Linked DNA regions of Homo sapiens: region 2 is linked to region 1. Evidence: fine-mapped expression QTL. A gene starts in region 1. The other region holds a variant in brackets. All regions are shown on one strand. Distances are from middle to middle.

What was found. PIP is the estimated chance that this variant, and not a neighbour inherited with it, causes the effect. A credible set is the group of variants that fine-mapping cannot tell apart.
Region 2: its variant is the best candidate, but not a certain one, in a credible set for the expression of UBA5 in skeletal muscle (GTEx, PIP 0.62).

The regions. Positions count from the first base shown.
Region 1 is chr3:132,657,824-132,662,221 of GRCh38, forward strand. UBA5 (ubiquitin like modifier activating enzyme 5) reads left to right here and starts at 2,506. Exons shown (of 12, transcript NM_024818.6): 1 at 2,506-2,875. The coding sequence starts at 2,715. ACAD11 (acyl-CoA dehydrogenase family member 11) reads right to left here and starts at 1,986. Exons shown (of 20, transcript NM_032169.5): 1 at 1,780-1,986. The coding sequence starts at 1,928. All of the region lies in intron 26 of NPHP3-ACAD11 (NPHP3-ACAD11 readthrough (NMD candidate)), which reads right to left. RefSeq lists enhancers at 2,288-2,826, 2,362-2,451, 2,822-3,101.
Region 2 is chr3:132,681,182-132,685,579 of GRCh38, forward strand. NPHP3 (nephrocystin 3) reads right to left here. Exons shown (of 27, transcript NM_153240.5): 24 at 3,373-3,613; 25 at 2,218-2,343; 26 at 1,522-1,637; 27 at 1-909. The coding sequence ends at 729. NPHP3-ACAD11 (NPHP3-ACAD11 readthrough (NMD candidate)) reads right to left here. Exons shown (of 45, transcript NR_037804.1): 23 at 3,373-3,613; 24 at 2,218-2,343; 25 at 1,522-1,637; 26 at 733-909. Among named protein-coding and RNA genes, the nearest start is that of UBA5, 23 kb to the left of the region's middle. The variant TA/T (reference allele first, on the strand shown) is at 2,751.

The DNA.
Region 1 (4,398 bases):
CTATCTTCTGTTAAACTTTTGGTATTAAAAAAACACATATTCCTTTTTTTTTTTTTTTTTTTTGAGTCTCACTCTGTCACCTAGGCTGGAGCATGGTGGTGCAATCTTGGCTCACTGCAACCTCCCTCTCCTGGTTCAAGCGATTCTCCTGCCTCAGCATCCCAAGTAGCTGGGACTACAGGCACGTGCCACCACGCCCGGCTAATTTTTGTATCTTTAGTAGAGATGGGGGTTTCACCATGTTGGCCAGGCTGGTCTTGAACTCCTGACCTCAAGTGATCCACGTGCCTCGGCCTCCCAAAGTGCTGGGATTACAAGTGTGAGTCACTGCACCTGGCCAAAACACACATTTTCAAAATATAAAGATTGATTCTTTTGAGTTTCTGAGACTTCCTTCATGGCCTATGTGTTTTCAATTTTTATAAACTTTTTCATGTGTCCTAGAAATGAATGTGTGTTCTCTGTGGGATCCAGAGTTCCATATATATTTATTAAACCAAGCTTATACAACATTTCTGGAAGCAATTTTTATACCACAACTAATTTACAACTAATTTCATTTTTTGAACACGGTTATGGTTTAACATTCAGCTTGGTTCAGAATTAAGTATCTTTCAGTTATGTACCTCTTCAACACTCCTACAATATGAACGTTACTATCTCCTTTTTGCCAAAGCAGGACTAGATGTTCAAAGGGTAACTTGTCCAAATTCCACAGCAATTGAAATAGTTGAAATTTGAACTTTGATCTGTTTCAGTTTGTTACAACACAAGGCTTCTAGCCTAGAAATCTCAGCTATTCTTTATTCCACCTTTCCCTTCATCTTCCAATATCTATTGGGACATGGGACCTTTAAATTCTACACCCTAAAATGTTCCCTGATCCATCTCATTTATTATTATTTTCATTTTCACCAAAATCAGTAGTCAAAGAATATAAATGCTAGTGATAAAATACCACTAGCACACTATGTTGTTGCAATTTTTACGCCCTTTCACCTATATTACGGTATTTCATTTCATTAATAAGACTAATCAAAATAGGTATTACAACTTAGGAAACTAGTTCTCAGAGTGTTTATGTAACATATTTAAACTCCCAGACAGCAAGTGACAGATCCAGTTTTCTGAATGATAGGACTCTTTCTGTAGCCCTGTATTAGTAACAATGTTATTTTTAGAATAAAGTTTTAAGAATGTATTATCTATTGTAAAACATCAGACTAAAGCCAGATTCCCGGTGGGGAACGCTACTCTCAGGATCCTCTCACTCAGTTCCATTACCTCACTTCAAAAAACCTGAGGCCCAAAGTGGTGCTGTGACCTCCTAAGTGGAAAAGCTAGTACTCGAATTCGGATCCTCCATCTGGTGTCATTAACTCAGCCTCCCGGAATACGGCCAATCAAACGGAATTACACCAGCTTCTCAGAAAAAGATCTAATGGCTGTATCACAAAAGAAGGCATCTATTTCTCAGAATTTGTAGCCTTAATTGCCTTGGTGAATCCTCAAGGGACATAAATCCATCCTTTAACAAAGATTCCTTTGGATAGTAGAATGGTGAACGTTATTGCGCTTCCATTACCGCCCTCCAATTGGGAAGCCCCCAGCATCGAATTCGGAGGGCCGGCAATAGCAGCTCATGCCTGTAGGGTGCGTCCACTGACTGCAGGAAAAGCAATCAGGGTGGGAGAAACTTAGGAAACCACCCAGGGCCAAAGGAAGGAAAACTCAATGTACAAATTTTTTTCCGCTGGAGGCAAAGGCTGACATCCATACCTGTACTGGGCAATGGTCAGCGTAGCCTCACGTTCGGCCCCAAAGCCAGACAAGTGCTGGTTTAGGTAGGCCTCCAGGGACTTGCTGTCGAACTTGTGCTGGGGCAGCACTTCGGCCAAATCGGACTCGCCAGTAGCACCTGGCTTCATGATCACCCCCGCAGGCCACAGCAACGCGGCATCCACAGGTCTCGAGTGCCGAAGTCCTTCAGGATTGGGGCAACGTCCCCTCTAGAGCATGGGCCGAGGCCGGGGTGGGGTCTGGCTCCAGCCAACCGCACACAGCCTACGCGCCGTTGCTGAGCAACGCTTGCCCGCTGAATCCCGAGGTTTTAGCTCTAGTCAAGTGCCAAAAGAGCCCAATGTGTGTTCGGGTTTCAATTCTCCAGTCAGCGTCAGAGTTGGAGGCCTCAATTTTAAAGAAGGCAAAGCCATGGTCATCGTTGCGGGTAAGGAACAACGCAGAAGCCTCTTCCACCCCCAAATTTAATGCAACAGCAGGCGGAAGACCTGCAGGGTCCCGTTCAGAAAAAGGGCCGTCAGACTGTCGAGCCTAAGAATAAAAAGACCCTGTTTCTCTTAGATACCCGGTTAGCAAGGCAACATCGCTGGCCTCCTGCCCTGGACACTTATCACCCCGGTGCTGCTGCGGCCGGGTTTAGCCGGCCCAGCGAGGAAGGAAGCCGAAAGAGCCAGGTTTTTGATGAGGGGGAGCGATGTCTGCGACGCACCGGAAGCGGCTCCGAGGAAGGCCTGTGGGAGTCTCGGAGACGTGTCTGTCTGTGAGGCGCTGGGTGCACGTCCCCAGGGCTCTGGGCTAGGAAGGCAGCGGCGAGGTGCCTCCCCACGTACCCCTCGCGGGCCCAGCCGAGCAACGTGGGGCGAAGGCGGCGGCGAAGGCCCGGGCTGGGAGCGTTGGCGGCCGGAGTCCCAGCCATGGCGGAGTCTGTGGAGCGCCTGCAGCAGCGGGTCCAGGAGCTGGAGCGGGAACTTGCCCAGGAGAGGAGTCTGCAGGTCCCGAGGAGCGGCGACGGAGGGGGCGGCCGGGTCCGCATCGAGAAGATGAGCTCAGAGGTGGTGGATTCGAATCCCTACAGGTAACCTGCGTCGCCGGTCGGAGGCAGGCGCGGGGGACGAGGTCAGGCTCCGTGAGGTCAGAAGTGAGGCGCTTCCCACGTCCCGCTCATGGGGACGCCCGCCACCCTTTTCTTGGTCTGCGAATCCTGTTCCCAAATGGGCAAGGCCACATCTTAGTACTGATCGGAAGATATTCTTTCTCTTTTTTAAAAACCTCCAGTGAGTCAGCCATATGGTGCTGCTCCTGTGCCTGCTGAGGACGTGTGTCCAGTTTCCTATCACCCTTGCCTCTTAATTAGTCCGCCTCGCTGTGTATAAGACTGATAGTAAGAACTTTCAGAAGATGAGATCAAATATTAAACCTGCTAAGGTAAACTTTGAGTTTCATTAAAGGCTTATCAATGCATCTTAAATGGGGTCGGGGCGGGGGAGAGCGGGGTTAGCTCTATTCTGAGATATTCGGGTGCTCCTTAACATCTCAAACCATTCGACATTACCAAGACTGCCCAGGCCTCTCTTTTCTTCTTTCCTAACAAAGCTTATCAATTCAGCAGATGGAATATAGTGCAATGGTTAAGGGTAAGGACTCTACCGCCAGACTGATTGCAATTCAAATCTAACTACTCTCTTCGTAACTGCCTAACCTTTGGCAAGTTGTGAAACTTTCCGCTTCAGCTTCTCACCTGTACAATGAAGATAATAGTAATATCTATCTCTGTCATAGTTGTGGGGATTGAAAAAATCAGTATGTATAAAGGTCTTAGAGTAGCGCTTGTACATGGCAAGCCTTATACAAGATTTTATTGCTAGGTGCATTTAGTAGCAAGCAGTTATTGAGCTTTCACTGTGTAAGCACTTTACATGCATTGTCTCCTCCCACCAAAACCCTATGAGATTGCTACTATTTTACCCCCATTATATAAGTGAGAAAATTGAGGCTTAGAGAGCCACCTCAGGTTCATGCCTTGGTAGTAAATAATAAGGCCTGTCTTGCATTAGATTTGTCTTAATGTAAAATTCTCATGAACCGTCTCCCCAGTAAAAACAATTAAGTCGTGTAGCTAAAAATTGTATAGTGTTAAAGTAGATAAGGAAGATTTTATTGTTGCTTTTTTCCTTTAAAGAGCATAACAGTTTTGATTTTTAAAAAAGGTTTTAGTTTGTGATATATAAAGCCGCAGTAGAAGTCTTAGGGTGCACTGTTTTAACTGTGTTGCCAAATATGAACGGTTAATGGTCCAGAATTTTTAGAGATTAAATAAGCATGAACTGACATCTCTAATCAGAATAAGTGGAAACTATTTGACATTTTTAAAACATTTTAAAATTTTACAAATGAAGACTTTGAAATTTTCCCTCCAGAATGAAAAGCAGAGGAATATGGGTCATGAATTTAAGTTGTCTTTCAGACATTATTTAATATGAGATGATCCCTTGACATTGTAATTATAACAAAACTTTCAGAACTCAAGTCTAAATATGTAGTATTTTCTATCTGATTTGCACCATTGACTTTATTAAAATTGCTATACAGGAGATGGCA
Region 2 (4,398 bases), 23 kb after region 1:
GCCAGACTACTGCTGAAAAGCAAGAGGAATGGCAAGGCTAAAGTAGCTCTTGAGAGCTCAAAAGAATCATGGAATTCTTTTTTTTTTTTTTTTTTTTTTTGAGACAGAGTCTCACCCTGTTGCCCAGGGTGGAATGAACTGGCACAATCTCAGCTCATAGCAACCTCCACTTGCTGAGTTCAAGCGATTCTCATGCCTCAGCCTCCTGAGTAGCTAGGATTACAGGCATGCGCCACCAGGTCCAGCTAATTTTTTTTTGTATTTTTAGTAGAGACAGGGTTTCACCATGTTGGCCAGGCTGGTCTCCAACTCCTGGCCTCAAGTGATCCTCCTGCATCACCCTCCCAAAGTGGTGGGATTACAGGCATGAGCCACCATGCCTGGCCAAGATTCATGGAATTTTTGAACTCCTTGTCTTAACTACTCTGCCAGCTCTTGTTGAACAAAGACCAATCCGCTCTTCATGATTTGCTCCTCATGTCTTCTTATAATTCTAATGTGTCTACATCCTTGGATACCATATAATAGGAAAATTCTTTTAAACAACTAAAACAGACATAATCACAATTCCAACTTAATGTAATCCAATACAACTTCATACAAATAGCAGTTAAATCACACGTAGTAAAATTTCGTACAACATTTTTTTAAAGTTTCAAATTCAAATGTTCCAAATGTTTAATTATTTTGTCTTAAGGTACATTTGCAAAGAATTCTAACTGCTGCTATTACCTTTGTCCTTGCTGAAGGAAAACATTAGGAGAATGAGCTGTTTTTAAGCTAAACGTGTCTCCACTTGATGAATGGCGTGAAGGAGCTTTTCCACCCAAGAGTGATGTTTCTGCTTCTTTTATTTCCATTGCCCTTTTGTATAATTCAGCAGCTTTTTCAAAATCTCCTCCTTCATAGCTTTGAGAGAGAAAACAAAAACTCTTAAAATGAGAATATAACCTCTTACCAATTCAAAATGACCTTATGGGATACAGAAAAAGAAGCTGTAAATATTTGCCCATTTCCCCTCTTTTTCCAGTGTATTCACTCAAGCAGACCAGTAAAACAACACCCAAACTCTTCTCCTTTCTACCAGTATCAGTATTTTTGTGTCTCATATGGATATCATTAAAACCATGTTGTAATAGAGGCAGTGAAATTGCTAAGCAAAGTTAGGTATTCTCTGCATCCTGAGAAAAATACAAATGAGCAAGCAAAAGTCAACATATACTTAATGGCAACTTCACTCTGGGGACAGCAAATTACCCATATTACTCCCAGAGCCAGATGTAGTATAAACCATCCTTCACTGTTTGCCATGATGCATACATATGCTCCTCTGCAAAATAGATCATGCAGGCTTCATTTCATTTCTGGATACTACTTCAGTACTTCTTGAAGTCAGTCAGCAAAAAACAACCCCTCCCCACTCTAAGAAAAAACATTCAGTAATACATATTTTGTGCTATTCTAAGACAAAGCTACTTCGAATAAAAGAGGCTGTATAAGGAAAGTGAAAAAAATTCTTACCTAAGCACAGCTAAATTTTTCAGTGTTTCTCCAACTCGAGGATGCATCCGACCCAGGCTATCTTCATAAATCTTTAATGCTCTTTCATATAATGGCAAAGCTTCAACGTGTTTTTTCTTATTAAAAAAAATGATAATGCTCATGCACACTGGGTTTCTGAAATTAATGTATTCTAGACTAAGCTAACCTACTTTGATTAGTACTTTAAAATGTTAATATCCTCCTAAAAGATGGGAATAAACAGATTAACTTATGAATAATCATAGGAGAAGCAGTATAATAGAAAGTCAGATACTTAAGATTTAGACCTGGCTTGGTAACCATTTGACCATAATCCAATACTGTAAGCACAAACCTGTTCCTTTATTGCCCAATGGCTCCCCCACCTGATTCTCACCCATCATAATCAAATGCCACAGGCTTAAATACTTAAATAAATATTATATGGAGGGATGTAGGGTATCTCCAGAATTTTAGAAACTAAGCCTATGCTCTGAACTAACAGTGTTTTACACTAAGAGGAAGGGACCTTCATACAAGTCTAACTTCAATAGTTTCTCAAGTACTAAAGGAAGTATTAGAAATATCCTTAAATTGTCTTTCATTCTATTTAGTGTTCCCTATCTAATTCATGTTTACCTATGTTTTATACCATAAAATCATTCACTGATACAACGTTAAAATATGGGAACTTACCATTTGGCTATAAAGAACAGCTAAGTTCACCAAGGCAGTAGCTACACTAGGGTGCTTTGGGCCAAAAGATTTCTGTCGAATTTCAACAGCCAATTCATACAAAGGTACAGCTTTGTCAAGTTTCCCCTAAAAAACAAGAGTTAAATCTAACAAAAATATAAGGCAATAAATACTATCTTATCAGAGCTTTTTCCATAAGTAAAATTTCATATTAAAGGGTAATTTTGAGGGAAAAAAATCTCAGAAGCATTTCCTATCAGCTTAATGATTAAGTTTATAGATAACTGAAAATTTAAAGCTACACTGTATAGAAAAGCATTTTTGATAATTCAGAAAACCCTTTAGGATCATCCACTATTACTGTTTCTAGTGTAGTAAAAACATATCAGCTGAAGTAGATTTACTATTGCACATAATTTGGAGACTGCATCAAAATAAAAAGCTCATTTCTTGCCAAATCCCTTCCAGATTTTTCTAACTACTTCACTTCACCTGAAAGTTGGGCAGAAATAGCAGCAATGTACCCTTCTTAC[TA/T]AAACAACTTTGGTGTCAGGATGACCAGTAATGGACCCACAAAGTCTAAAGACAGTCTACAAAGCTCTGTAACTATGCTAAATGAAAGCAGGCTTCCCTGGAATTTTTTCTTTTTTGAGAACAGCTATAAAAATCCCAAATATCACTCAGTATAGAACCCTATGGCAAACAATGGTTACATTTAATTACAGGCAAAGCCAAGAAAGAACGAAATAAAAATGTTCATTTAATCAACTACAAAGACATCTCCTGATTTCTTATGTTTATGTTGCTTTACACAGCAAACTTAATATTGGTGGAATTTTAGAACTTCTGAAATGTAAAATAAGTTTGAATTAGAATGCTAATAAATGCATTTGTACTTGGAATGTATTTAACAAAACAAACCCAGCATATTAATTTACTAGTATATTATTTCAGAATCAAGAATCAATGTAACCAGTTCAGTATAAAATAATTATTTTTAAATGTTCTGCTCAGTTACTTGTTAAAAGTTAAATCATGATTTTTAAAGCTCATATAAACTAACCTGTCCCTCATAAAGACAAATTATTTTGCTGATAGTAGTTATGGCTTAACTGATATGTTATAAAACATGTAAGAATGTCAAAGCTTACTTACCATTTTCTTATACAAGATGGCAAGATGCTTCACCGTATATGCCAAAGAAGGGTGATCAGGAGCTAATGCACGTCTCCGAATATCTAAAGCTCTTTCATAAAGTTCTTCTGCTTTATCATACTGTTTCTTTTCATTGCATAGAGCTGCCAGATTATTCAAAGACTGAGCACAGTCAGGGTGATCTGGTCCTAGAACTCGCTCCCTCATTTCTAAGGAACGCTTCAGAAACTGGTCAGCTGTTCTGTGAACACAATCCCAAAATGGCTTAAACTATCTATTTTCTAGAGTTTGGAATCCTGACCCCTAAATTAAGTGGAGAACTGACTCATCTTTATTCTTAGATTCTAGTTAAAATAAGAGATTCAGCTCAAAATCTTACTTTCCCCCTCTTCCCCACCCCTATCTCTTCCTGCCCTTTTCCTGACAGTTTGAGGGCCTAAAATGTGTGGATGATTGCCTCAATTCTCCACTTCTGAAAGAAAAACTGATAGATATTTTCCAAAACAAACTTTTATACTTTAAAAATTATTAGACCTAGGTCCAATAAAAGATTTTTGTATTCACTCTTCCTCCCTTTGGAGTTAGTACTAAATAATTTTTATTTCTTTATTTTGTTTTTTTGTATGTGTGCGTGTGTGTAACCTTGAACTCCTAGGCTCAAGTGATCCTCCCACCTTAGCCTCTCAAGTAGCTGGGTCTACAGGTGTGTACCACCATGTCTGGCTAATTTATTAATTTTTTTTGTAGAGACAGGGTCTCACTATGTTGCCCAGGCTGGTCTTGAATTCCTGGCTTCAAGTGATCCTAATGCCTCAGCCTCCTAAAGCTCTGGGATTACAGGCATGAGCTATCATGCCCAGCCAGTACTAAATAATTTTTAACAAAAGAATAAATCATTATTTTTTATATAAGTTTCTGTAAGTGGGCTACAGATTTATTATACTTTTCTGACATCCAAAGTTTCAAATTTGTTATATTTTTCTGATATATGAAGTCCAAAAATACTTTTTATAACATATAAATATA